4 linked regions of the Homo sapiens genome follow. The protein of the gene in region 1 interacts with the protein of each later gene in a pairwise test. Each region holds a gene or a part of one and is shown on either strand. Other genes may lie near its edges.

The links.
Region 2: the proteins of RNF122 (region 1) and GPR37L1 interact in binary tests that used the Homo sapiens proteins (3 or more experiments, as listed by UniProt).
Region 3: the proteins of RNF122 (region 1) and CDS2 interact in binary tests that used the Homo sapiens proteins (3 or more experiments, as listed by UniProt).
Region 4: the proteins of RNF122 (region 1) and PLLP interact in binary tests that used the Homo sapiens proteins (3 or more experiments, as listed by UniProt).

What each region holds. Positions count from the first base shown.
Region 1 is NC_000008.11:33,564,060-33,571,718, forward strand, and holds the start of RNF122 (RING finger protein 122), read right to left. Parts: upstream 3,070-7,659; 5' UTR 2,665-3,069; coding exon 2,640-2,664; intron 1,847-2,639; exon of another isoform or gene 1,517-1,846; intron 1-1,516. UniProt on the Homo sapiens protein: May induce necrosis and apoptosis. May play a role in cell viability.
Region 2 is NC_000001.11:202,117,975-202,126,030, forward strand, and holds the start of GPR37L1 (G-protein coupled receptor 37-like 1 precursor), read left to right. Parts: upstream 1-4,942; 5' UTR 4,943-4,989; coding exon 4,990-5,619; exon of another isoform or gene 5,620-5,759; intron 5,760-5,976; exon of another isoform or gene 5,977-6,084; intron 6,085-7,567; exon of another isoform or gene 7,568-7,744; intron 7,745-8,056. UniProt on the Homo sapiens protein: G-protein coupled receptor. Has been shown to bind the neuroprotective and glioprotective factor prosaposin (PSAP), leading to endocytosis followed by an ERK phosphorylation cascade. However, other studies have shown that prosaposin does not increase activity.
Region 3 is NC_000020.11:5,185,529-5,193,007, forward strand, and holds part of CDS2 (phosphatidate cytidylyltransferase 2), read left to right. Parts: intron 1-229; coding exon 230-298; intron 299-1,158; coding exon 1,159-1,311; coding exon of another isoform or gene 1,312-1,331; intron 1,332-3,538; coding exon 3,539-3,658; intron 3,659-4,206; coding exon 4,207-4,310; intron 4,311-4,573; coding exon 4,574-4,706; 3' UTR 4,707-7,479. UniProt on the Homo sapiens protein: Catalyzes the conversion of phosphatidic acid (PA) to CDP-diacylglycerol (CDP-DAG), an essential intermediate in the synthesis of phosphatidylglycerol, cardiolipin and phosphatidylinositol.
Region 4 is NC_000016.10:57,255,564-57,261,118, forward strand, and holds the end of PLLP (plasmolipin), read right to left. Parts: intron 3,022-5,555; coding exon 2,899-3,021; intron 1,467-2,898; coding exon 1,350-1,466; 3' UTR 534-1,349; downstream 1-533. UniProt on the Homo sapiens protein: Main component of the myelin sheath that plays an important role in myelin membrane biogenesis and myelination. Plays an essential function in apical endocytosis. Regulates epithelial development through the regulation of apical endocytosis.

The sequences.
Region 1 (7,659 bases):
TTACTATTAAAGAAATGGCAAAATAGTCTACTGGTCAAAAGCTGACACTGTAGTAAGTTTTTCTTTAAAACTGTATAAGGACAGAGAATACCAGCCCCAGGAAAGAGGGGCTCCAGGTAGTTTCTGAAGGGGTGAGGGAAGGGTTGCTTCTTCACAGGAGTCAAAGGACAGGATCTCTCAGTCACTTTTCTAAGAAGTGCAAAGAGGGCCAGACAAGGTGGCTCCTGCAGGTAATTCCAGCATTTTGAGAGTCCGTGGTGGGAGGACTGCTTGAGCCCAGGAGTTCAAGACCAGCATAGGCAATGTAGTGAAACCCTATCCCCAAAAAGTAGATTAATTAATTAATTAATTAAAAATTAGCCAGTAGCCAGGTATGGTTGCACACACCTGTGGTTCCAGCTATGCTGGGAGGCTGAGGCAGGAGGATCCCTTCAGCCTGGGAGTTGGAGGCCGCAGTGAGCCCTGATCGTGCCACTGCACTCCAGCATGGTTGTCGGAGTGAGACCCTCTCTCAAAAAAAAAATTAAAGTAGGCTGGGCGCAGTGGCTCACGCCTGTAATCCCAGCACTTTGGGAGGCTGAGGTGGGCAGATCACCTGAGGTCAAAAGTTCAAGACCAGTCTGAACAACATGGAGAAACCCCCTCTCTACTAAAAATACAAAATTAGCCGGCCATGGTGGCACATGCCTGTAATCCCAGGTACTCGGGAAGCTGAGGCAGGAGAACCGCTTGAACCCGGGAGGCGGAGGTTGTGGTGAGCCGAGATCACACCATTGCACTCCAGCCTGGACAACAAGAGCGAAACTCAGTCTCAAAAAAATAAAAAATAAAAAATAAAAAAAATAAAGCAGCAAGTCTAAAATCTGATATGAAAGGGCGCTGCCCAGAAAGGGCAGTGTTACTGACAGCTGCCTCATTTCTCCCTAAGTCTCTGTTCCATTGTCTCGGCCAACCTATGAAAGCACTGACATCAGAATGTCTCATCTCATCTGGCAGGCTGGGAGCAGGAATGACGTCAGACAAGGGCTGGCCAAGAAAGACCAGGGGATCTGGGAACTGCTTCTCTTTCCCAGCCAACGGGAATCTTTCCCAGATGCTAGGGTGCAAGGGCCTTCCTCAACCCCCATCCTCTGCCCCCTCTCCCACAAAACCGCCTATCACACACGGCTTGGTTCATTTTCAGGAAATGAGATCCGACCAGCAAAAGGAGGAAGGCGGGGTGGGGGGATGTGGGGTATACATGCTACCCAAACCCTGCCTCAAAACAAAGCCTCTTGACATAATTAATCCAAGATCTGGCAGGAGTCTACTCTAAAGAATGATTTTTTTCCCCCTGTAACTAGCTCGCTTGCCATACTGAGAGATAAGGCCAGCTGCTTCCCATCTCTCTCTCCCAGAAACTCTCCAAGCATCGGAACAACGCGGTCAAGACTAGGACCCCAGGAGGACTGGAGCGGGTGGGGTGGGGGGCGATTAGTATCCAAGGTTTTGAAGTGTCCCGCTCAGAAACACCTACCTTTCAGGTAGCTCGCTGAGGAATCAGACTCCAGCCTAACCCAGTATCACCTGAACCTCCAAAAAGCCTCAGGTGAAATGAACTAACTTAGAAGCATCACCCAGGCCTGGGGAGAAATGGGGCGAGGGGTTGTCGCGTCTGGAGGTGTGGCCTTCACTTGGGCTCAGGAGCAGACACCCTAATCTGGCCTTGTGGCCAGAAACACGGCTCCCGCCAGGCCAGCCTCGCACCCCAGGGACAGCCGGGCGCGGAGCTCTCTGCGAGGGTTTATCAACTCAGGAAAACGGCTTTTTTTTAGATGGAGTTTCGCTCTTGTTGCCCAGGCTGGAGTGTAATGGCACGATCTAGGCTCACTGCAATCTCCGCCTCCTGGGTTCAAGCGATTCTCCTGCCTCAGCCTCCCAAGTAGCTGGGCTTACAGGCATGCGCCACCACTCCCGGCTAATTTTGTATTTTTAGTAGAGACGGAGTTTCTCCATGTTGGTTAGGCTGGTCTCGAACTCCCGACTTCAGGTGATCCGCCCGCCTCGGCCTCCCAAAGTGCTGGGATTACAGGCGTGAGCCACCGCGCCTGGCCGAAAGCGACTCTTTAATCCAGTCTTCCGCAAGCACCCAAGCCACGCCAGCAGCCCGTGGGAAACCAACAAAGCCAGAGGAAGCTACCCCCGCGCCCAGTCCCGCACGCTGCACGGTATACATATTTACAATAGCCTGCAAAGTTTCAGGCCGGGAACTTGAGCTCCCTCTAGGAGATCCCAGCCCGAGTGCGGATTTAATTCTCCTCCAACAACCACAACAAAGAACAGAGTTTGAGCGCACAAAGGCAGGGGAAGGGGGTAGAAGAGCCGGGCCGCCACACAAAGGCCGGGAACCCCTCGGCTCCCACGCCCCCGGCCCGCCGCCAGTCCGGAGGCCCCTTCCAGGCTCTGGAGTGAAACCTGGATAGTTTCAAATTCCGCGCTGTGCAGAGCAGAGTGGGGCGCCAAGACGCCTTCTCGACTGTCCCATTTCAGGAGAAACTTGGTTCCCGAGGGAGGACCAGCGCGCTGCTGTCCGACCTCGCACCCCGCGCCGCGGCTCCCACCAGCCCCACGTAGGCTCGGCCCTCGCCCCGGGGACTCACCGTTACACCACTGGAATGGGTGCATCAATGAAGTCGCGGTTGGCTTCCTCGGGCGAACGGACGCAGGCGGGGTGCCAGGAGGGCGGGGTGGGAGCACTAGCGGCGTGAGGGGCCGCAGGCGGGGTCGGGGCAGCGCGCTGCAGCCGCCCTGCTGGAGAAGCCGAACTCCCTCCGGAGTGGGGGGCTTTGACGAGGCTGGTGTTCAGCCCAACAAAGAGGGACGAGGAGGAAACAAACAAAGTCCCGCGGAGCACAGCCGCACGGAGCGCACGCGCCAAGGGCCCCGGGCTGGGGGAATGTGGGGCGCCGCGGGGCGGGGGTGCCCGGGCTGCAGAAGCCCTCGGCCGGGGGAGGAGGGAAAAACCTTTGCCGGAGGCTCGGATCGGGTTCAGCGGCGCAGAGGTGAGCTGGCTGGGGTTCCGAAACTGACACCCGGCGGTGCACACCCCCTCCCTTTTACTTCCCCCACCAGTCCCCAGGAAAACTCCGCCCCTTGTTCGTCACCCTCCCTCCGACCAATCGGAGCCTTTCTCCTGCCCCCGGCTATTATTTGCAGGCCCAGCCTCCCTTCCCTGGAAGCCGGGAGGATCTTCGCACGGTGGGCGCCTCCCACTTAGTCTTCCCAGGCCTGGGGAAACTTCGGTCTGCAGAGAATGGAGCGGCGACGAGCGATGCCCCGGAGTGGGGGCCTGCCTTTTGCCCAGGGACACCAAGGCAAAGGAACAATTACTGCCACATTGTTTTCCGCCTACAGATCTGTTATTTATTTACTTATGTATTTGGAGGCAGAGTCTGCCTCTATCGCCAAGGCTGGAGTGCAGCGGCGCGATCTCAGCTCACTGCAACCTCTGCCTCTCGGGTTCAGGTGATTCTCCTGCCTCAGCCTCCTGAGTAGCTGGGATTACAGGCGCTTACCACCATGCCCAGATAATTTTTGTATTTTTAATAGCGACGGGGTTTCGCCATGTTGGACAGGCTGTTCTCGAACTCCTGGCCTCAAGTGATCCTCCTGCTTCAGCCTTCCAAAGTGCTGGGATTATAGGCGTGAGCCACCGCTCCCGGCCCTCTTTTTCTTTTTTGAGTTAGAGTCTTGCTCTGTCACTCAGCTGGAGTGCAGCGGTGCAATAATAGCTTACTGCAGCCTCCAACTTCTGGGCCCAAGCAGTCCTGCCACCTTAGCCTCCCAAGAAACTGGGACCACAGGTGCCTGCCACCAAGCCCAGCTACTTTTTAATTGTTTTGTATAGATGAGTGGCCTCACTATGTTGCTCAGGCTGGTCTCGAACTCCTGGACTCAAGTGATCCTCCCGCCTGAGCCTCCCAGATTGCTGGGATTACAGGCATGAGCCATGGCACCCAGGACATTTCATTTCTTAATTGGATAATTGCAAAAGCTTCCTAACTGGCCATTCTGATTCTAGTCTATAGCTCAGACTTCAGAGCCTACAAGAATCACTCCTATGTTTGAGATGTAACATGCAGATTCCCAGGCCTTGAACCCAGAGATTCTGATTCAATAAAGGGTGGACCCAGAAATTTTCATTTTAATGTGCCTTGTCTTCCCCACCCCTCAAATTCTCATGCGGCTATTGAAAGAAACAGTGCTCTGATTTCACTCTCAAGTCCATCCCTTCTGGTCACAATTATCTCTGTAAAATGTAAATCTGAACATTTCTTTGCTTGATAACGTTTGTTGGTCTCCAGTGTTTACTGAATAAAGTTCTGTAAACTAGAGTGTGGCATTCAAAATGTTTCAGTCTAGACTCACTCCTATAATCTCAAAACTTCGGGAGGCTGAGGCGGGCAGATTGCTTGAGCTCAAGAGTTTGAGACCATCCTGGGCAACATGGTGAAGCCACCTGTAAAAAAAATACAAAAATTAGCTGGGCCTGGTGGTGCGCACCTGCGGTCCCAGCTACTCTGGTGGCTGAGGTGGGAGAATCACTGGAGTTCGAGAAGTCGAGGATGCAGCTGCAGTGAGCTGTGATTGTGCCACTGCACTCCAGCCTGGGCGACAGAATGAGACTACTCTGTTTCAAAAAGAAAAAAGAAAAAACTATTAAAATAAAGTGTTTCAGTCTAGCCTTATTTGTTTCAGTCTTCCTCATACTCAAATACTCCCCTTCACCACACACTATTCATCAGCCATGAAGCTTTTTGTTGTTACTCTTCCTTGAACATAGGCTGTGTATATTCTTTTTTGTTGTTGTTTTTATTTATTTAGAGACAAGGTCTGGTTCTGTTGCCCAGGTTTGAATGCAGTTGCATGATCTTGGCTCACTACAACCTCCACCTCCTGGGTTCAAGCCATCCTCCCACCTCAGCCTCCTGAGTAGCTGGCACTACAGGCACTCACCACTATGCCCGGCTAATTTTTTTTTTTTTTTTTTTTTTGTAGAGACTGGGTTTAGCCACGTTGCCCAGGCTGGTCACAAACTCATGAGCTCAGGCTATCTGCCTGCTTCAGCCTCCCAAGTGCTAGGATTAATGGGGGAGGCTATACATGTGTGGGGCTGGGGGTGTATCAGAACTCTGTACCTTCTTCTCAATTTTGCTGTGAACCTAAAACTACGCTGAAAAATAAAGTCTTTAAAAAAAAAAGTGTGCATAATGGTAACTATTGTTCTTTCTATTCATTGGCTCGGGGGAGAGATGTGATGGGTAATCCTAATTTTATTAAGGCTCTCCTGCTAACTGCCTCCAGCGCCAGACTGTGAAAGAAGGAGAGCCTTTGAAGGGAAAATTGATGGGAAGTGAGGAACACCTCCCGTCCCACTCGCCTTTGGACTAGAGGTTCTTGGAAGGAAAACACCCTTAAAGGTAGGAATGATGGAAATTCTTCTTTTTTTGAAACGGAGTCTTGCTCTGTGTCGCCCAGGCTGGAGTGCAGTGGCTTGATCTCAGCTCACTGCAGCCTTCGCCTCCCAGGTTCAAGTGATTCTCCTGCCTCAGCCTCCTGAGCAGCTAGGATTACAGGTGCAACAATTTATATTTTAAGCCTGATATTTTAAGCATTCAATAAGATCTCCAGAGGCACTTAAGGACTCCAATTTCGAAAAACTGCTGTATCCCTTCACACTCTCCTCCCTTCGTCCCTCCTGGCCAGTGTGGCCACAGGACCTCAACTGATGGCTGACATTGGGAGTTATATGTTGGTAGAAGGGCTTTGGTTCTGGGCATCTTTGAAATGATTGGTTCAGTCCCAGCATTTTCCTGGACTGAAGGGTTCTATGAAAGATAAGCTGATTTCTCACACCATGTCAACCAAATTTAGATCTCTCACTCCTCCACCCTCACCACCAGGTGACTCAGCTCCACATGAGTCAGGAAGACTAGTTTGGTTTATTGAGGAAGAAACTGAAACAGTAAAGAAGATGATGGGCCATATATTCAAAGCTACTTGATAAATATGAGGTAGAAATATGTTTCTAGGATGGGTGTGGTAGCTCACACCTCAGCACTTTGAGAGGTTGAGGTGAAGGAGCTTGAGCCAGGAGTTGGAGACCAGCCTGGACAACATAGCAAGACCCCATCTCTACAAAAAATAAACATCAGCTGGGCATGGCGGCACATGCCTGTAGTCCCAGCTACTCCAGAGGCTGAGGTGTTCAAGGCTGCAGTGAGCTATGATTGTGCCACTAGACACTAGCCTGAGCAACAGAGCAAGACAAAAGAAAAGAAAAGAAAGAAATATGTTTTAAAATCTTCCATGGAAAGGGAAAAAATAATACTAAACTTCCGGAAAAACTTTTTTTTAAAATTAATTAATTTTTTTATACAGGGTCTTGCTCTGTCACCCAGTGGTGCAGTGGTGACATCTCGGCTCACTGCAACTTCCACCTCCCAGGCTCAAGCGATCCTCCCACCTCAGCCTCCCGACCAGCTGGGACTACAGGCGCATACTACCATGCCTGGCTAATTTTCTGGGGTTTCGCCATGTTGCCCAGGCTGGTCTCAAACTCTTGAACTCAGGCAATCCCTCAGCCTTGGCCTCCCAAAGTGCTGGGATTACAGGCAGGAGCCACCGTGCCTGGCCTAGGAAAGCTTCTGAGGAGTCAAGGGATTCTTTTTATTCCCACTGCCTGACTCCAGCTTCCTCTTAGACACTCCGTGAGCCCCCTCATTTTAAGGCCTTGTGAACATTAGAGAAACACTCTGGAGAGAAGCAGTCAATTCTGTGGAGGTGCATGGGGGAAAAGGCCTGAATCACCTCCTTTCATCTTTAGTAAGACACCCTCTTTCATGGGCCTCCAAGTGTGACCCGATAATGTAGCAGAGAATGGTAACCATGGATGGTTGTAAAAAATGATAAATGGCTGGGGGCCATGGCTCATGCCTGTAATCCCAGCACTTTGGGAGGCCAAGGTAGGCAGATCACTTGAGCTCAGGAGTTCAAGACCAGCCTGGGTAACATGGCAAAACCCCATCTCTACAAAAAGTACAAAAATTAGCTGGGCATAGTGGAGTGCACTTGTAGTCCCAGCTATTCAGGAAGCTGAGGCAGGAGGATGGCTTGAGCCTGGGAGGCAGAGGTTGCAGTGAGCTGAGATTGTGCCACTGCACTCCAGCCTGGGTGACAGGGTGAGACCCAGTTCCCTGCCCTCCCACCAAAAAAACGATAAATAACCCCAAGTAAACATGTCATGTTTCAGAATTAGACAAATTGTGACAATATTTTCCCAAACTTTTAAATTTTGTATAAGAAGCATTTTCAGGCCAGGCACGGTGGCTCACGCCTGTAATCCCAGCACTTTGGGAGGCCGAGGCAGGCGGATCACGAGGTCAGGAGATCGAGACCATCCTGGCTAACACAGTGAAATGCTGTCTCTACTAAAAATACAAAAAATTAGTTGGGCGTGGTGGCGGGCGCCTGTAGTCCCAGCCACTTGGGAGGCTGAGGCAGGAGAATGGCGTGAAGCCAGGAGGCGGAGCTTGCAGTGAGCCGAGATCGCGCCACTGCACTCCAGCCTGGGCGACAGAGCAAGACTCCGTCTCAAAAAAAAAAAAAAAAAAAAAAAAG
Region 2 (8,056 bases), on another chromosome or scaffold:
TTGTAGACACAGGGTCTTGCCATGTTGCCCAGGCTGGTCTTGAACTCCTGAGCTCAAGATAGCCTCCTGCCTCGGCGTCCCAAAGTGCTGGGAGGGGACAGCCACCACACCCAGCATTTAATCCTAATCTTCACAACAAGCCTGTTATTATCTTCACGTTGCAGATGAGGCAACCGAGGGACAGAGGTTACATACTTGACCAAAGTCACATACACAGTTAGTAAGTGGCAGGGCCAGGAATTAAATCCAGGCAGTCTGATTCCAGAGTGTGCTCTTGGCTGGAGAATGCATGGCACATGGAATCTGCTCAGTACAACATTCGCTCATTTTTTTCATGGGTGGCACTTCCACACCAGCTCAGATGCCCTCAGTGCCACCTCAGTGCTTCCCTCCCACCCGGTTCCAACTAAGTACCTTTTCTTTTCTTTTTTTTGAGACGGAATCTCGCTCTGTAGCCCAGGCTGGAGTGCAGTGGCACAATCTCGGCTCTCTGCAACCTCTGCCTCCCAGGCTCAAGCGATTCTTCTGCCTCAGCCTCCTGAGTAGCTGGGATTACAGGCGTGTACCACCACACCCAGCTAATTTTTGTATTTTTAGTAGAGACGGGGTTTCACCATGTTGGTCAGGCTGGTCTTGAACTCCTGACCTCGTGATCCGCCCACCTCCACCTCCCAAAGTGCTGGGATTACAGGCGTGAGCCACCGCGCCCGGCCCCAGCTAAGTACCTTTTCTGTAGCCAGCACTGGGGAAACTCCCAGGGAGAGGAATGGGGAATTCCTGGGATCATGGAGAGACACTCCCAAGGGCTAGGAAAGCCTTCCATCTCTGCCTGGCATGCTTCTGAATAGGGGAGATGGCTCCAGCTTGTCCAGAGAGAGGAATCTTCCTAAAGTAGAACTACAGGTAGGAGAAAAGTACTTTTGGGGGACCCATGCTGGGCACCCTCCAGGGGGGTGGAGGGGAAGAGTAGGCACATCCCCCATCCCTTTAGTCTCAGCCCCTGGGAACCCACCCTGTCCCCTATCATCTCTTTTCAGATGGCCTTCTCAGACAGCCACAGAAGGTCTGTGGGCAGGACCTGGGCAGAGTGGGATGGGTTAAGATCCGATGGGGTGAAGGGCTGAGGCCAGGCCCTTAACTACCATCACTGGACATTTGGTTCCACCTAGTGGCCTCTGATGTTCCAACCGTTCTCACAGAGACCGGCACAAGGGGGTGCCCTTTCAGGCATTCAGTGTTTATTGAGCACCTACTCTGTGTGAGGCCAAATGTGAGGTTTGATGGAGGCATATCCATGAGCATAAAGAGGCTGGGCACGGTAGCTCACGCCTGTAATCCCACCATTTTGGGAGGCTGAGGTGGGTGGATTGCTTGAGCTCAGGAGGTCTAGACCAGCCTAGGTGATACAGGCAGACCCTATGTCTACCAAAAAAAACACAAAAGGCTGGGCATGGTGGCATGTGCCTGTGGGCCCAGCTACTTGGGAGGCTGAGGTGGGAGGATCAGTTGAGCCCAGGAGGAGTTGAGGCTGCAGTGAGCCTAGATCCTGCCACTGCACTCCAATCTGGGTGACAGAGCGAGACCCTGTCTCTGAAATAAAATAAAATAAAATAAAATAAAATAAAATAAAATAAAATAAGAAGCAGAAGGTCAGGCAGGGTGTGTGCACCTGTAGTCCTAGCTACTCTGGAGGCTGAGGTGGAAGGATTGCTTGATCCCAGGAGTTCAAGTCTGCAGTGAGTATGATCATGTCACTGTGCTCTAGCCTGGGCAATAGAGCAGGACTCTGTCTCTGAATTTTTTTTTTTTTAAAGAGCAGAGAACTAACATTTATTCTGCTCACACGTACCAGCCCTGGGCTTGGGTCCATACTGTATTGGCACGTGCCTGTGGAGCACTGAGGATCCCACAGCAGAGACAGGACTGCCAAGTGCCTGGCCTGGTCACTTGGCTTCTCTGGACTTCCGTTTCCACTCCTGAAAAATAAGAAGGTTGGTGTAGATTATCTCTAGCATCTCTTCCTATGTTAGAATTCTGTGAAGTCACACAAAGGAGTGGTTAAGAGTTTCAGCTTTGGGCTGGGTGAGGTGGCTCACACCTGTATTCCCAGAACTTTGGGAGGCTGAGGCGGGTAAATCACTCGAGCTCAGGAGTTTGAGATCAGCCTGGGCAACATGGCAAAAAGCCTGTCTCTACTAAAAATACAAAAATTAGTCAGGTGTGGTGGTGCACATCTGTGGTCCCAGCTACTCTGGAGGCTGAGGTGGGAAGATTGTTTGAGCCTGGGAGGCTGAGGTTGCCGTGAGCCAAGATCATGCCACTGCACTCCAGCCAGGGCAACAGAGCCAGACCCTGTCTCAAAAAAAAAAGAGTTTTAGCTTTGGAGTTGGACAAACCTACATTTGGATCCCAGCTGTCATTCACTAGCTGTGTGTTCTTAGGAAAGTTGCCTTACCTTTCAGAGTCTAGGGTAATAATATAAAGATTAAGTGACAATTATAGCAAGCATTTAGCACAGAGTGTGGCACTTGGTGAGTGGTGATGCTGCAGATGATGGATGATTCTAGTTACCCAAATCCCCAAATAGCACACCTCTCATCTCCTCTCCTCTCCCCTCCCCTCCCCTCCCCCAACTTCCTTTCCTTTTCTCTTTCTTTTTTGATGGAATCTTGCTCTGTCGCCCAGGCTGGAGTACATTGGCCGCAATCTCAGCTCACTGCAACCTCCGCCTTCCGGGTTCAAGTGATTCTCCTGCCTCAGCCTTCTAAATAGCTGGGATTACAGGTGCCTGCCACCACGCGTGGCTAATTTTTTTTTTTTTGTATTTTTAGTAGAGACGGGGGTTTCACCATGTTGGTCAGGCTGGTCTTGAACTCCTGACCTTGTGATCTGCCCACCTCAGCCTCCCAAAGTGCTGGGATTACACACATGAGCCACTGCGTCTGGCCCTTTTTTTTTTTTTTTTTTTTTTTGAGACAGAGTCTTGCTCTGTTGCCCAGGCTGGAGTGCAGTGGCATGATCTCGGATCACTGCAACCTCTGCCTCCTGGGTTCAAGTGATTCTGATGCCCTAGCCTCCCGAGTAGCTGGGATTACAGGTGTGCACTGCCACATCTGTCCAATTTTTGTATTTTTAGTAGAGATGGGGTTTCACCATGTTGTCTGGGCTGGTGAAGGTGGTAGGTTTCAATGACAGCAGCATAATGCCGTGGGAGTTGGGAGGAGGGAATGATCTGACTCACTCTGGGGCAGGTCTTCGAGTTAATTCTCCAGTGGATTCTCCTAGGCATCGTGTGGTCCGTCCTCAGAACTGTGCCTCCCTAATGTGGCTGAGTGGATTCACTACCCACCCCATGCTTGGGCTCTGCCTCGACCTCTCCCTCCCATGCACAGCCAAAGCCGCTCAAAGCTGCTGGTTTTCCTTGACTCTGGGCTTCTCTCCATCACCCACTGCCTCCCAACAGAACCCCCGGTCTCTGCATCCTCCTGTTCCAGATTGCTAGGACCCCAGCTGCCCATCAGGGACCCCTCTAAAATAACTTAGTTGAGTCATTGTTTGCCTACTTAACAACCTGTGATATTCTCCATTGCTTATGGGATAAAATCTAAACTCCTTGGCTTGGCATACAAAGTCCTTTACAGTCCAGTTCCTCCTCTGCTGATATTTCCAAGCTCTTTGTCCCAAGTGCCCATGCTCTCTCCCCACCTCCCTTGCACTCTAGTCCCCTCGACAGACTTGCTCTCTTGCGGGAACATCACCCACTTCCACATCACCCAGCCTTTGTGTGTGCTGTGTCTTCTGCCTAGAGCACCCTCCCTTCCCGTAGTCTGTCAGGCAAGCTCACAGCCATTTCTCGGGATCCATTCAAATGTCACCTCGCTTGGGAGGCCTTCCAGATCCCCCCCAGATTTTCTTGGGTTCCCTCAGCATCATGACCTTTGCCTTTCATAGCATCTATCATGCTGAACTTACACATTTACTTCCTTCTCTGGACTGAAAGCTCATTGGTGGCAGAGATCCTTTACATTTTTGTATTCTGAGTGTCTGGAACACAACACGTAGTCAGTAAAGACGTGTTATTGCAAATGTCCACACATCTTGTGTCTGGCTCAGAATATGGTGTTTTAGGCCGGGTGCGGTGGCTCCCAGCACTTTGGGAGGCTGAGGCAGGCGGATCACCTGAGGTTAGGAGTTTGAGACCAGCCTGGTCAACACGGTGAAACCCTGTCTCTACTAAAAATACAAAAATTAGCCGGGTATGGTGGCGGGCACTACAGTAACTGTAATCCCAGTTACTCAGGGGGCTGAGGCAGGAGAATCACTTGAACCCAGGAGGCGGAGGCTGCAGTGAGCCAAGACCGCGCCATTGCACTCCAGCCTGGGCAACCGAAAAAAAAAAAAAAATTAGAAATCTCTGGAGTCAGATCTGGGTTGTGGGCCTTGCTCTGCCTTGTATCAACTATGTGGCAAGTGACTGACCTCTACAAACCTCAGATTTGTGATCTGAGATTAATCAAGGGTTAATTGAGAAACCAGCTGAGTGCTAGCACCTAGTAAGTGTTCAGTAAGTGACAGTGATGGTTATTGCTGAGTTTTGAATGGAGGAGCTGCCTTAGAATCAGGAGACCTGCGCCCCAGTTCCCATTCTGCCCCACCTCCCTGTGTCACCCTAGGCAGGCCACATTTCCTCCCTAGTTTCAGGGGCCTGAAGCAGATGCCCTCTTAGGGCCCCACAGCCTGACATGCTGTAGGGCCTGAGAAGCGGCGTCGTGGAGGACGAGATGTGTGAGGGCAGCAAAGAGTGCTATGTGTCCAGCAGAGGGCCCTGCCCGGCCTGTGGCCGGAGGCTGGGAGGGAGGGCAGGCGAGTGATGCCAGACGCCTGACTGGAGGCGGATCCAGCCGGCCAGCTGCCTCTCTGGAGCCCAGCTCTTGGGCCCCCTGCACTCACCTGCTCTTCCTGGGCTGGCTGTCTCCTGCTCATCCAGCCATGCGGTGGCTGTGGCCCCTGGCTGTCTCTCTTGCTGTGATTTTGGCTGTGGGGCTAAGCAGGGTCTCTGGGGGTGCCCCCCTGCACCTGGGCAGGCACAGAGCCGAGACCCAGGAGCAGCAGAGCCGATCCAAGAGGGGCACCGAGGATGAGGAGGCCAAGGGCGTGCAGCAGTATGTGCCTGAGGAGTGGGCGGAGTACCCCCGGCCCATTCACCCTGCTGGCCTGCAGCCAACCAAGCCCTTGGTGGCCACCAGCCCTAACCCCGGCAAGGATGGGGGCACCCCAGACAGTGGGCAGGAACTGAGGGGCAATCTGACAGGAGCACCAGGGCAGAGGCTACAGATCCAGAACCCCCTGTATCCGGTGACCGAGAGCTCCTACAGTGCCTATGCCATCATGCTTCTGGCGCTGGTGGTGTTTGCGGTGGGCATTGTGGGCAACCTGTCGGTCATGTGCATCGTGTGGCACAGCTACTACCTGAAGAGTGCCTGGAACTCCATCCTTGCCAGCCTGGCCCTCTGGGATTTTCTGGTCCTCTTTTTCTGCCTCCCTATTGTCATCTTCAACGAGATCACCAAGCAGAGGCTACTGGGTGACGTTTCTTGTCGTGCCGTGCCCTTCATGGAGGTGAGTGTGTGTTCTGTTTGAGCTCTGCTGGGAGGCTGCAATCCAGGGAAGGGACTCAAAGTCTCCATCAGGTCTTTGGAAATGGAATTTGTGGGTGTGCAAAACCTGAGTCTTGGAGCTCTGACTTGCTCCTCCTTTACCTTGGAGAAGGAGACAAATACGGTATTGGTTTCTGGTTGCTCTCAAGAGAAGTAGGCAGGCCAGGGGGACAGGCGGGTGTGTGGGGCCCCTGGGTTCCAGCCCCAGCCTGATCTTCTGCTTCGGGAGCAACCTCAAGGCAGGCCTTTGCCACTTTCTCCAGACCCTAAGCTGCCCTCTCCCTTCCTCAGCCCTTCTCCCCTGTCCCACCCAAGATACCTCTGTCCTTTGTTGTGACTCCTCTTCTTTCCTCTGTACCCCCTGCCGCTGCCCTGCTCCCACAGCTTCCTTCGCTGCTCCTCCGTCTCCTGCCTCCTGAAGGAGTGCCTGAAGGGAGAGCCCAATTTCCTTCACACCCCTCTGGATCAAGTCAGCATCCACTCCATGAGAATACAAGCACCAGAAGCAAAAGACCGCTCCGTTCTTCCCTCCCTGCTGGGATTCTCATTGTTATCGTTGTCATTTCCATCAGCAACTTCCTAGATCCTCTCTGAAAGGGATACCTGGTTCTGGGCACTGGAACTAATGGGGGGCTCTAGTCTTAGCTCTGCCACTGACATACTGGGCGTCACTGGGCAGGTTGCATTACCTCTCCAATTTCTTTATCTCCCAACCAGGGCGGGTAGACCAGATGGTCCTTCCAGCTGGCCTGTTTCACAGTTCTAAAGTATACCACTATGCCCTTACTTCTGGTAGCGTCTACGATAAGTCCATGGGTGTCAAAGGATATGTAGAGCATAGAGAGACAACTTAAAACACTGCAGAAACATACTGATGTGTGCATTTATGCAAGACACAGCAAGGCCACCCTCTCTCTCTCTGTAAGACAAAATAAGCAAACAGTCTTTCAAATTTTGGCTGCATGGAGTGTAATGGAGTGACTGTGGTCTCCCTGTGAAGCTGCTGTTCCTTCGTGAATGATGCTGCATGACAAGGGGGACTTGCCTGGCCGGAGAAGGGCTCAGGATCAGCATTACGGACACAGGTCCTATTCCAAGGTCTGTCCCCACCTCACCATGTAACAATGATGATGTCATAGTTGGACAGACTCCCTGTGTCTCAGCAGTGGGTACAGTCCTTTCCTGTCCTTCCCAACCCAGGGAGACTGACTAACAGTGGTACAAAGTTACTCCACCCTGAAAGAAGACCCTGTGCCAGGCACAGTGGCTCATGCCTATAATCCCAGCACTTTGGGAGGCCGAGGCAGGTGGATCACTTGAGGTCAGGAGTTCGAGACCAGCCTGGCCAACATGGTGAAGCCCCATCTCTACTAAAAATAAAAAATTAGCCGGGTGTGGTGGCACGCACCTGCAGTCCCAGGTACTCAGGAGGCTGAGGCAGGAGAATCGCTTGAACTTGGCAGGCAGAGGTTGCAGTGAGCCAAGATTGCGCAGCCTGGGTGACAGAGTGAAATTCTGTCTCAAAAAAAAAAAAAAAAAAAAAAAAGACCCTGCAACTGGAGAGAGGCTTTGCATTCTTAGTTATCATCTTGTGCTCACGACCCAGGTGAGCTGTGCATGCTTAGACACAGGACTCTGAAATTGAGCAGACTAGATTAGAAACTGGGCTTTTCCCATCACTAGCTGTGTGATTTGGTAGATTACTTTAACTACCTAAATCTCAATTTCCTCATTGGTAAATTGGGGATAATAATAATAATAGCTATCTGGGTGAATTCTTAAGGGATTAAATGGGTGATGTCTATACAGTGCTTAGAATTAAAATGGTATAGAGGAGAAGGGGAAAAGGGCAGACACATACGACCTCTTGTTTGCATGTGGCTGGTAGGTCAATGAACACCTGGCCCTACCTGACTGTGGGTCCTGACATATGTAATGTCCTCCTGGGCCAGCCCCTCCACACCTCCTGGAGGATAGAGATGATCCACAGGCTGGTAGACAGTCTTCCTTCTAGGCTGGGTGGTGGGACAGGTGGAGGGAGAAAACACTCTTTCTTTTTTTGAGACAGAGTCTCACTCTGTCACCCACAACACCCTTCTTCTTTATTTGAGACGGAGTCTCATTCTGTCACCCAGAGTGGAATGCCGTGGTGTAATCTCAGCTCATTGCAACCTCCGCCTCCCAGGTTCAAACAATCCTCCCACCTCAGCCTCCCAAGTAGCTGGTACCGCAGGCGTGTGGTACCACGCCCGGCTAATTTTTGTATTTTTGGTAGAGACAGGGTTTCATCATATTGCCCAGGCTGATCTCCAACCCCTGAGCTCAAGCAATCTGCCTGCCTTGGTCTCCCAAAGTACTGGGATTGCAGGCGTGATCCACCGCGCCCAGCAACACCCTTT
Region 3 (7,479 bases), on another chromosome or scaffold:
TCGTTTTCTAATATAAAACTATTCGAATGACTGATTGAAACAGAAAGGGAACCAAAGGGAGGAGGATATAAGATAGGGAACAAGGAAACCATATTTGGGGGAGCTTTAAAAGGTGACATGGTTAAGAGAATGGGGTTTTATGAAAGAAAGGTTCTTAACAAGTAATCATTGTTCGCAAAGCTATAGTTATCAAAACACCCTTTGCTGAGAACTTGCTCTCTGTCCACAGCTGTCCCCGAAGAAGACCTGGGAAGGCTTCATTGGGGGCTTCTTTGCTACTGTGGTGTTTGGCCTTCTGGTAGGTGGTGGCTTTCAGCTGTGTAAGGGATTGGGTGGACAGAGGCCTCATACCACCTTCCAAGGCCTGTCCAGAGCTGGAGAGTGTCTTTGGAGGCCAGGACTGTCCTGCTGAATGGCAACCTTGCCCTGAAGAGGGCCACTGGCCATGCCAGCCATCCACCAGCTTTCAGGCAGGGTGCTAGCAGTTGGAGAGCACCTTCTATGCCCTCTCGCGCCCAGGCATGGTGACATCAGCAGGTAGCCTTCTTGTCAGGCATTTGATGTTCCAAGGTCAGGGTGAGTGCACCCAAGGGAAGATGAGATACACAGCTTTTCTCCTATGTGTGCCTTGCCCAGAGGTGGGTGATTTTCCTGCCCTTTCCAGAGCACCATTCTCTGCTTCTGACCCTTGGGCCAGTCCTCCTTCTTCAGCACTGTCTGGCTGCCCTTCAGTGCTCACCGCCCAGCTTTGTTGCTTTCCAGCCTTGTTCCTCCTGAGATCTGCCTCTCACTGTGCCCCTTCCCCATGGCCTCTCTCCAGTTATCACTGACTTCAGAGATCTTGAGGAAAGTGGTCCTAGCTCCCCAAATGGGGAGAGTCTTCTTGTAGTTCTTTGCCCCAGTCCCTTCAGGTTTTCCCGGATTCTTTCGGGGCCTGGGTGTTTGGGTTCCTGTATGTAACCTTGGTGGGTCATGAGCCTCTTTTTTTTTTTTTAATTGAGGTAAAATATGTATGGTAAAACATGAACCTCTGAGCACATAGCTCGCAGTTAGCAGGGTACTAGGCACCCTCAGGAACATGGCCAAACCAGGTGCCTGTGTCTGGGCTGGATGGTTGGAACTTACTTCCTTGCCGGTCTCTCTGTTATTCCTCCTCAGCTGTCCTATGTGATGTCCGGGTACAGATGCTTTGTCTGCCCTGTGGAGTACAACAATGACACCAACAGCTTCACTGTGGACTGTGAGCCCTCGGACCTGTTTCGCCTGCAGGAGTACAACATTCCTGGGGTGATCCAGTCAGTCATTGGCTGGGTATGTGCCACTCACAGGGGGTGAGCGGCCTCCATGGACAGTGGCTACAAAGAGAGATCCCCCTCCATCACCTGCCCTCTGAAAAAAGCTAGCTTCCTCCTTCCCAAAGCTGTAAGCCCCAGGATGAAGGAGAATTGCTCACGCCAGGTCAGGGTATGGGCAGGACAGCTTTCCCCCAACATCAGATTGTTTAGACCAGTGGTTTTCAAAGTGTGTTCTGTGGATCCCTGGAGGGCCCTGGGATCCTTTTAGTTGCGGGGGTAGGGTGGGGGGGTCTGTGAGGTCACAACTGTTTCATAATTAGACTATGACATTATTTTCCTTTTTCAATGTGTTGACATTTGCTGTGATACGGCGCAAAAGCAGCAGTGGTTAAAACTGCGTTAAGGCAGTGGGTTCCTCATGCCACACACTCACAGTACAAACAGGCCAGTTCTAATGAATGTCTATGAAATAGTAAAGTTACTAATTTTGTTAAATCTTGACCTTTGTACACACACCTTTTTAACACTCTCTACTGAAATGGAAAGTATGTGTAAAACATTTCTGCTAAGTACTGTAGTACAGTGCTTGCCTAAAGGGAAAGCATGTGTGCAGTTGTTTGAGTTGTGAGCTAAATTAGCTGCTTTTTTTTTAGAAAAGAAAGTAAATTTTACTTGGAAAGAACCAACAAATTATAATTTTTCAGACTTGGGTATTTGGCAGACATTTTTCTTGAAAAGGATGAAGTGAGCCTATCACTTTAAAGAAAACAACTGAGGCTAGGCACAGTGGCTCACACCTGAAATCCCAGCACTTTGGAAGGCCGAGGCAGGCAGATCTCTTGAGGTCAGGAGTTCCAGACCAGCCTGGGTAACATGGCGAAACCCCGTCTTTACTAAAAATACAAAAAAATATAGCTGGGGATGGTGGCGTGTGCCTGTAATCCCAGCTACCAGCTACTCAGGAGGTTGAGTTGCTTGAACCCAGGAGGCGGAGGATGCAGTGAGCCAAGATCGCACCACTGCACTCCAGCCTGGGTGACAGAGTGAGACTGTCTCAAAAAAAAAAAAAAAAAGAAAAGAAAAATGACTGACAGTAATTGTTACCAAGGATAAAATTTGGCTTTCAAATGAAAATTAGAATTTTGGAAAGCTTAACCTGCCACTGTGAACTTGACAGCTTCCTAATACTTAAAAGCCTTTTCTGATGAGGTCTGTGATGATTCTTAACGTACGTGTGTGTGTGTGTGTGTGTGTGTGTTGATCACATGAGAAAAAACACAAACATATTTGACACGGTATAATGAAATGTGTCTACATTTGGAAGATTTACATAACTCAGTGAACCATTATTTTCTAAATGGCTGATGCATGGTGTTATATAGTCATGCATGGGTAAAAGATCCGTTCAAGTATAAGATAGACCAATGGATTTTAATGTAAGAGAGAACAAAGTCCATTGATAGAATTCTAGATTCCATATCACACCTAATATTCAAGAAATGACTACTTGTCAAGCTCTGGTGTAGTGTCAGAGAATACCCAAAACCATCTGAGGCTACGACTAAAATACTCTTTTCAACTATGTATCTGCGTACGGCTGGATTTTCTTTATATACTTCCACCAAAACAGCATGTTGCAACAGATTGAATGCAGAATATTTTAATGTTTTCCATTAACTTAGATATTAGAAATTTACAAAATGGGAAAAATTCACTCCTCTTATTGATTTAAAACCTACATGTATATAATTAGTTTCATAAAGAGTTACGAGGTTGGATGTCTTGGTCTGTCTAGTGTTGATAGAACACTTGGGGCTGGGTAATTTACAAAGAAAAGAGGTTTACTTAGCTTCTTTCTGCAGGCTGAGAAGTGTGAGAAGTGTGGCATTGGCTGCTGCCTGGCTTCTGGTGAGGGCTTTTTATGCTGCATTGTAACATGGCGGAGAAGGTCAAAGGTGGAAGCAGACACATGCAAAGAGGCAAAACCAGGGGCTTCATCACTTCATAACAACCCATTCCCTCGGGATGCCAGTGCTAATCTAGTCTCTTGACAGAACTCACTACTAGGAGAAAGGCACCAAGCCATTCATGAGGGATTTGCCCCTGTGACCCAAACACCTCCCACTAGGCATCACCTCCCAGTGAGGCCACAATGAGGATCAAATTTCAACATGAGTTGACAACTCAAACCGTAACACTGGGCATGTATGCACCTAAACTTTTACTTCATTTACTCTTCTCAGAAAACGGTCCGGATGTACCCCTTCCAGATTCACAGCATCGCTCTCTCCACCTTTGCCTCGCTCATTGGCCCCTTTGGAGGATTCTTCGCAAGTGGATTCAAACGAGCCTTTAAAATCAAAGTAGGAAAACCGTCTTACGTTCCTCTCATCTCACTCCCTCACCCATCTTCTGCCTTTCTCCCCCTTCCCTGCCCCCTCCAAAATACTAGGCTGTACACCCTGGCATTTAATGTGTGATCTTGACCCATGCACTGAATTTAGGTGAGTTAATTAATAACAATATTTTCAGGAAAATGCAATCGTTGTTTTTCAGTTTATTTGTTAATATATCTTTCTTCAAAAGAACATTTTGGGCCAGGCAGTGGCTCATGTCTGTAACCCCAGCACTTTAAGAGGCCAAGGCGGGAGGATCACTTGAGGCTAGGAGTTAGAAAGTAGCCTGAGCAACATAGCAAGACTCCTGTCTTTATTAAGTAAATGAAATAAGAACATTTTGTAATGCAATAAAATTGTGTCCTAATATAGCCTCACCATTAGATTTCATACTTCTCACCTTCTATTGCCCTCAGCTACTCAGCACAGAAGCCTGACATTGGGGTGGGACCATTAGGCTGGGATTGGTTAGTGGCTGAGCCCAAGTTCACCCATCCTTCCCCTGCCTCTAACAGGACTTTGCCAATACCATTCCTGGCCATGGAGGCATCATGGATCGCTTTGACTGCCAGTATCTGATGGCCACCTTTGTCAATGTATACATCGCCAGTTTTATCAGGTATAGTACCTTTCCATCTGAACCAAGTTGGTGGATTTTTAAGTACGGTGCAATTCTAGAATTTTAGCGGCATCTAAGTTCCAGTGAAAAGCATCCCAAATAATGCAGTTTTCAGTTGTTTCTGCTTACAGATTTTCTGAGGCCTCCTGTCATCTGTTAATAGATAACTCTCTGATCCAGAGATCAGAGCAGCCACTCAGATAATCAGGCCCTGGAAGCTTCCGGGCCCTAGCTCAGTGCTGTTTCTTCACATTCTGTTCCAGAGGCCCTAACCCAAGCAAACTGATTCAGCAGTTCCTGACTTTACGGCCAGATCAGCAGCTCCACATCTTCAACACGCTGCGGTCTCATCTGATCGACAAAGGGATGCTGACATCCACCACAGAGGACGAGTAGGGGCCACCCAGGGCCAGGAGAACAGGAACAGAACTGAGCAGGGGCAGGTCTCCAAGGCAAGCCCAGCTGGTGTGACTTAGACAATGACGAGGCTTCAACTCACTGTCTTTTTTTTTTTTTTTTGGAGGGTATTTTTTATTTGTGGGTTCAAAAAATCTGTATATACAGTCTATGTGTTTAGAATTTGTGTTGTAAGTAAACTACAGCTTTGAGTTGGAAAGAAGTCACGGGTTGTAAAACCATTTGGATTTTTTTAAAACAAAAGTATTAATAATCTGGAAGACAGTGTTGCCCAGGTCAGGAGTGTTTTCTTGGTGGTTCCAGCCCCCATCAATTGAACTGTTTCTGGGCTCAGTCAGACACAGACATTCATCTGTGTCTGACCAAATCAGGGGACTTCCCCACCTGTGGTGGGAGGCACAGCTTAGATGTTTTGTACACCTGGTCTTTTCTAGAAATCCCTGCTTGGAGCTGCAGAAGGGTTGCCTTCTGTAGGTCGGAGGAATGGAGGCTTACTAACCAGGTAAGCCTTCTATGCATCCACACCAAAATCCTGCAGAATGTAAGTAAGCTCTGCTTTATAAGATGGGTTCACCTTCATCGCAGACTGAAAGTTTCAGTTTTTATTTTTTTCAGAAAGCACGAAAAATTATTTATAATAGTCTGGAGAAAAAACACACTGTAATATTTCAAGTGTATGCAGTAGAATGTACTGTAACTGAGCCCTTTCCCACATGTCTAGGCTCCAATGTCTCCTGTAGGTCCACCTAACTGTGTGTTTTCAGGGACAATGCCATCCATGTTTGTGCTGTAGACTTGCTGCTGCTGAATCCTTTCTGGGGACTTTCTCATCGGGCAGGGAGCAGAGGGCTTCTCGTTCATGCACCCTTTGCCTGAACACCCATGTAGCTGCTGTGTTGTGTATATATTACTCTTAAGAGGAGTGTGTGTGTCTGTGTTTGTTTTAAAAGTCACTTATTTCTTACAGTGATTTCAATTGCACCATGACTTCTTCACTAAAACCACAAAGTCCTGCTTAAAACTATGGAAAACCTAACCTGATTAGAGCCTTGACTATTTTGAAGATTAAATGCACACTTTTTATATAATGTGACCAGTTTAAATGTAGTTTGTATTGTACTGGGGGACCTTTCGTTGTTGTTGTTTGCTTAAACTGTGATTTTTTTTCCCCTCCCTAATTTCAGGGGTGAGATTGACTTTGGGAAGACAGATTAGTTCTTTGTCAGGCCAACAAGTGATGGAGTGCGGGAGAGAGAACTTGGCACCCAAATATATCAAACTATTCCGTGCCGTGGATGTTTTCATTGCCAACGAGGGTGTAATGATTTGCTTCTGCACCTTGGTCTAGTGCTGGTTTGTGGTGTTTTTGTTTGTAAATTAGCCTCACTGCCTCCCTGAAAGTGCACAGTCAGCCCAGGTCTCTAGAGTGTCCAGCAGAGGATGGAGCCCTCGGGATGTTTCAGCTCACACATCCTTGAGTGACTTCCCATATGTGTGTGGGGCTGAAGCGGCTTCTTTCCGCTGAACTTTTATTTCCATTTCAGCCTCGTGGCTTCTCTTATTCAGGTCCAAGGCCCCTTAAAAACAAAACATATTATCGCAAGGGCTTTCATTTCAGTATTGGCTGTGTCACTGGCAGGATGCATCACTCTCCAGGGCCTCTTTTTCGGAGCTACTCCCAATTCCACTCTTCTGTGATTCTGGCTGAGCAAGTTCATGCCGGTAGAGGCTCATTAAGTGAGGTCCTGGGCACCCCCCAAACAGGAAGTGTTTTCAGGCCCTTACATGCTTATCCTTAAGGTGAGTAGGTATCTCAGCAGCACACCCGAACAGTAAAGGTGATCAATAACGAAACTGTAGTTTTCAGATTGAAGAATGAACCTGGATCACCAAACTAGATACCGAAAGGGCTCCTCATTTGTCTCTTTTGTCCCATTGTGGGCATATGGTGGGCTCCTTGAGAGGAGGGAGTCTCAGCTGGGGCCTGGCTGCAGAGACCTGCTCTTGAATAGGGCTGCCTTTGGGATCAGGGAGCCGAGCATACTGGGCAAGGCTCATCATGTTCCTTTGTGGAAGTGGTTACTTGGTGGGGGTGGGGTGGGGAAGGGGGGTCTAGGAAGCCGAAGCTGAGTGCGCACTAGAGCTGCTAGCAGGCAGGCCAGAGGGTCAGCTTGTGTTTTATTTTCTGATTTCTCCTGCATGCTTTCTGGAGATGAGGATTTTTTGTCAGGTAGCTAGGAGAGCACTGCCACCTTGTGTCCATATAGCACAATGTTTCTCTTTCCTATTCACAGACAAGATTCAAGAAACCATTTTTACGTGTGTACATTCAAATCTTCATGAATGGCATCACTTGCTTTAGACCCATTTTTTTTTTATTGGTCAGAAATAAAATGTGACTGCAACTGTGTGCCCTCCCTTGTCGTGAATTCCCTGTTTATCACTTCCATGCATGGTTTTATGCTTCTCATTTGTTTATGTATTCATGAATACTGCATAGTCCTGATTCAGAGACTTTTGCTTTGCTTTCCAACTTGTATCCCTACATTCTCACAACAGCCTTCTTACCTCGGGTGAGAGTCATGAGCACCTTACCAGGCAGGGAGCTTCCCCAGGATAGTGTGGTGGAGTCAGGACTCACTCCATCCTGCACTTTACCCACAGGACACCTGGAGGGTCCCCCAGCCCTGCTTGCTTTTGTGAACGTCGTGTGAGTACACCGAGGTGTTGCAGCTTTCCTTCCCTCTAGCTC
Region 4 (5,555 bases), on another chromosome or scaffold:
ATAAAAATAAAAAATAACAAAAGGGTACAGAGGGTACCTAGAAATGCTTTTACCTTATTGTTCAGAGAACGTTGTTCTGTGGTGTTGGAAAAATAAGCTCAGGAGTACTCAGCTGCTTTCCTCTGCTGTCTCTACCAGCTCTGAGCAGGCAGCATGGCCAGCCACCTTGATTATATGACCTCCAAGCTTCACAGACTTTCAAGGTAGATGATATTGTTGAAATCTTTGATTCAGTAAGCTCACCTAACCTGCCCAAAGCAAGGGTGACTAAGTTATTGTCAAACTGAGTCACTTGTGAGAATAAAAGGCCGTGCTATTCTATTTATGCCAGCACAAACAGCATAAACCAGGACTGTTCCAGACCCAGCAAGCAGGAAGTATAGGCAGCCTTCCTCCGGTCAAAGAGTTCGCAGGTGGTGCTGAACGACTCCAGAACGTGAACTGCCCTACAGCAGGCATCTTCTACAGTCAAGCTGAGGTCTCCTGGAGGTTACAAGCACCTGTAAAAGTGATTTGCCAACATCTTGTCCAAATAATTTCTCTCATCTTTATTTTTATTAAAAAAAATAAAACAGTCACCACCAACCACATGACAACTCGCCAGGCAAGGCCTTGCTTCCCTCCCTCCTTTGCGTCCCATGTGCCTAGTCAGCAAGGTCGGGGAGGCACCGATGTTAGCTTCGCCCAAAGGGAGTATTACAGAGAGAGGCTTGGGAAAGGGAAGGAAACCTGGACAGGCTTTTCAGCACTGAGAAATCACTTAAAACTGATTTGCTTTCAGTAACTGGTATGTCTGAAATGCAGGGAGGGAAGACCATGCTGTCAGCAATCAACCCACTTTTTACAGGTTGGCTCCAGGGAGAGGTTGGTTGAAACGGTGTTTAAAGGAAGGAGAGTGGTTTCACCAGCTTGCTCAGCTCTCCTGGAACAAAGACTAAGGTGCTACGTGTTGCTTGTTAGGCTTATACTACGGCGGGTCTGGGGCTGCAGGTCTGGAGTCCTTGTTAGTGCATTTAGTGCTGGTGAGAAGGGTGGGCCCCAGTCTTGGACGCTGAAGTCCTCTAAAGACAAGGCAGAGACACAGCCTCAGATCCCCCGTCATCTTCCACTGAATAAGGGGGATGGAGAAGAGGTCTCAGCAGTTGGCCTCCTGCAAGCCGAGATGCCTGCCAGCCTGGGCCTGCTTCCTTAGCGCTGTGAGAGCTTATGTCTGACGGGCAGAGAGGAGCAAATGCAGTCCCTGTTGGGCTGACTCCACGCAGGGCTCCCCAGCTTCAGGCTTGCAGGGTGACCCTGCTCTGTGACCCAGCGGCGGCTTCAGCCCCAGAGGGGGCCGTGGCACAGGTGGTTTAGGCATAGCCGCCAGCCATCTGACTGGTGGCCGCATTGCTGCCTACTCCTCGCCAGGCCTGGTAGCTGAAGAAGGCACTCACTCCATAGGCGATCATCACCAAACACGCAAAGAACTGAAAGAGAGGTGAGAAGGGCTTAAGGACCGAGAGGGTGACAGTGACACAAGCTCCAACCAGATCTCAGGCCAGGCAGGAGGGGTTGTGGCAGCCGCACCATCTCACACTTAGCCAGATGCATTTCACAGCTGTTTATCATGGGGCTGATGAGCACCAGGGTCCTGGGATACCAACATTACCTTCTAACCATGGGAAACAGCTAAGAACCACAGGCAGGGCCTGTCAGATTGTGATAAGGGCAATGAAGGAGAAGATAAGAGTGACAGAGGGGACACCTAGCAAGGATTTAGTTCTAAAAAGACAACATTCAAAGGACACCCTAGGAATCTCCTAGAACCAGTTCAAGCCTCTATACTAACACCTGCAGCCACATTCAGAAGCTCCCCGTCTCTGTCCCCATCACTGAATTTGCTGATTTCAAAACTGCCCTCATCAGGAAGAGTAAGGAACCAAATGCGTGCCCATTGAGGCCCTGCCCTCCCCTGGGCTTGGCCGTGGCTCCAGGCCTGGCGTCCAACTTCTCTGAGCAGGAGCCTCCTGTCTGTCAAAAGGAACTGGTAGTCCCTTCCTCTCCCTCACTGTGGGTGTCGCAGGATCCTGGGAGGAGATGGTGTGCAGGGCCTGGTGGTGTGAAGGGTGACAGGCGTGGAGGGGACTACTGCCACTTCACTGGCCACCTGACGTGGGCCCAGAGTTTGGGTTTCATGGGAGAGCCTATGAATCTCCCAGAATGGTTTAAACCAAAAGGTTTTTGCACGTGCACTTGTCAGTGGGAGAGCATGTTTTTCACATTCTCCAAGGGGGCACGTGACCCTAAGGCAGTGTGGCACAGCTGATTTACAACAAGGTTCAATAGTCAGCCCAGGCCGCGTGTGGCAGCTCACACCTGTAATCTCAGCACTTTAACAGGCCAAGGCGAGTGGATCACCTGAGGTCAGGAGTTCAAAAGACCAGCCTGGCCAACATGGTGAAACTCCGTCTCTACTAAAAATACAAAAATTAGCCAGGCGTGAGACTCCATCTCCAAAAAAAATACAAAATACAAAAAAATTAGCGGGTGTGGCAGCACACACCTCTAGTCCCAGCTACTTGGGAGGCTGAGTCAGGAGAATCACTTAAACCCAAGAGGCAGAGGTTGCAGTGAGCTGAGATCACGTCACCGCACTCCAGCCTGGGCAACAGAGCAAGATTCCATCTCAAAAAAAAGAAAAAATAGTTAACCCAAAACTTCCATTGCCCACCACACACCACTCTCCACTGTTAATTATGGAAGCCTGGAGGCGGCCCGGCTCCCCTCTAAGACCCACTGAGTGTTCAGGTGACAACCCCTCAGGAGGTGGCAGGTGCCTGGCCTCAGACCAAGCGAGCAGCCTGAGTCCTGGGGCTGAGACCCTGCAGACCACCAAGGGAGCCTGGGAAGCAGACTCACCGAGGCAGCCGCGCGCTGGTTATAAGGCCGGGTGCCCCTCAGGGATGTCAGGTCAACTGCCGCAGAGCAGGCGATGAAGGCGGTGATGTAGAGAACGGTGGCGCTGATGTTAAAGATCATTAACTGCAGGACATGGGGGTAGGGAGTGGGGAGAGAAAAGGCTTAAGACACAAAGAGAGGCCAGACACGGTGGTTCACACCTGTAATCCCAGCACTTTGCGGGGCTGAAGTGGAAGGATCGCTTGAGCCCAGGAGTTAGAGACCAGCCTGGGGAACATAGGTAGGCCCCATCTCTACAAAAATAAAAAAGTTAGCCAGGCATGGTGGCGCATGCCTGTGATCTCAGCTACTTGGGAGGCTGAGATGGGAAGATCACCTGGAGCCGGGAGGTTGAGGCTGCAGTGAGTCATGATCACACCACTGCACTCCAGCCTGGGTGACACAGTGAGATCCTGTCTCAAAAAAAAAAAAAAAAAAAAAAAAAAAGACAAGACCAACGGTTGGGGCTTCTTGGTTCCCACTGGCACACTCCTTGAATAGCCATTGGATGGTGATGCAAACACCTGGGTCTTTCCCACCAACAGGGCCTCAAGAGGCCACAGTTTCCAGGGAGTCAGCCCATGAGGCCCTGGTCCCCAGGAGGCCTGCTGAGCAGGGAGCATGAACACACCTGAGGCTGGAGGAGGGGAATGACAGGAGGGCCTCAGTGATGGGGTAGTGGCAGTGCCAGACCCATTCCTCACAGAAAGAGCCCAATCCATGACCCATCTCTTTGTACCAGCTAAAGAAACACAGGCTACTCCTCCAAGTGTGGTCCAGGGCCAAGCCCAGGCCATCCCTGGTACCACTGCAAGGTTTGGCTCTGTGGCCAGTCCTGGGCTGGGCCTCACATCCCTCTCTGCCTTCAGGGGGAAGAATTTTTGTCTCCCTCTTGGCCACATCCTAAGCTCAAGGCTCTAAGCAAATGCCAGGGTCAGGACCAAGAGGACCAGATATTTCAAGCTGGATATGGAACCAGACTGGCAGGAAGGGGCCCTCTGCTGACAACCAGGGACCAGTCCCTCATCCCAAACGCTTGGCCCCAGGAGCCCATTCACCGTCTTCAAACGCCTGGTCCTCAAACATTCATTCAGTTCGTCCAATATACTTTTAAAAAATTACCAACATTATAAAATTAGATTTCATGAAAACCTGAAGACTTCATGTAAAAATTTTATATTAAAAAAATCTTGGCCGGGTGCAGTGTGGCTCATGCCTGTAATCCCAGCACTTTGGGATGCCGAGGCAGGCAGATCACTTGAGGTCAGAAGTTAGAGACCAGCCTGGCCAACATGGTGAAACCTCGTCTCCAATAAAAATACAAAAATTAGCCAAGAGTGATGGTGCCCACCGGTAATCCCAGCTACACAGGAGGCTGAGGCGGAAGAATCACTTGAACCTGGGAGGCAGGGGTTGCAATGAGCTAAGATCGTGCCACTGCACTCCAGCCTGGGCAACAGAGCGGGACTTTGTCTAAAAAAAAAAAAAAAAAAACTTAGGATATCAAAAGATTTCGCTCCAAAGGGGCTGCATTCCCACTAGGAACAGATGAAGTGAGTATAGAGGCAGCTTGCGATGGGCAGATGGATGCTGGCTTCTCCAGGGTCCCTCCTGACCCAATTTACTCACATATCTTGCCTGGATCCTGTAGGGGTCTGTAGCCCCCATGCCAGAAAATCCCAAATTGGCCATGCTAATCCAGCCTTCTCTAGATGCAGTTAAGCCCTCTCTGCCCCATTCGTTGAGGGTCCAGAAGCACAAGAAGCAATGTCCTGCCACTGTGGCAGAAGGGAGCCTCCTTCCATTAACAGCCACGGCTGGAGCCCCAAATCTGCACCTAAGAGACACACAGGCTTTTATCTCTGGAGATTTCTCTCTTAGAGGTCCCTGGGACGTGAGGGAGGGGGTGGACCCTGAGCCCGGAAGTCAAGGCACCGCCTCCTCGCCCCAAAATCTTCCCTGCAAGCCCAGCGACCCCTGCAAACGCTGCCTGTTTCTGCCAGGGATGTCGAGATCTAACAAACCCATTCTGTCTTGAGGATGACTCACGTTTCCTCGGTTTAAAAAGTCATTGAATTCCAAACAATGCCGCCTAGTCCCAGCCTTGCTTGTCTTACAATCATGTGCCTTTCTCGCCTCTCTTCTCACTGAAAGCCTCAGACCCCAGCTGCAGGGGTTTTCCGGGTCAGAGGAAAAAAAAAACCAGCAGCTTTCTGTGTGTCTGGCCGGGGTACTTCCCATGTCCGCTCTCAGCCCTGTGTCCTGGGGAGACTGTCCTGGGGCAAACCTGGGGAGCCCAGCCTCTCCCAGGCCTCAGGGCCTCACCTGCAGGCAGCCAGGTGCCCGAGCTTGTCCTGCACACTTGAGGCCCTGGCCTGGGCAACTTCTGACAGCTTGCCACAGCCTCCAGCCACAGGGCTGCCTACCTGGGCCAAGCTACAATCTCACAAACTCACACAACACAGGCACAAATTCTGACCACCCCCAGAGGGAAATTTTTTTTTTGAGGTGGAGTCTTGCTCTGTCACCCAGGCTGGAGTATAATGGTGTGATCTCGGCTCACTGCAATCTCCGCCTCCTGGGTTCAAGCAATTCTCCTGTCTCAGCCTCCCAAGTAG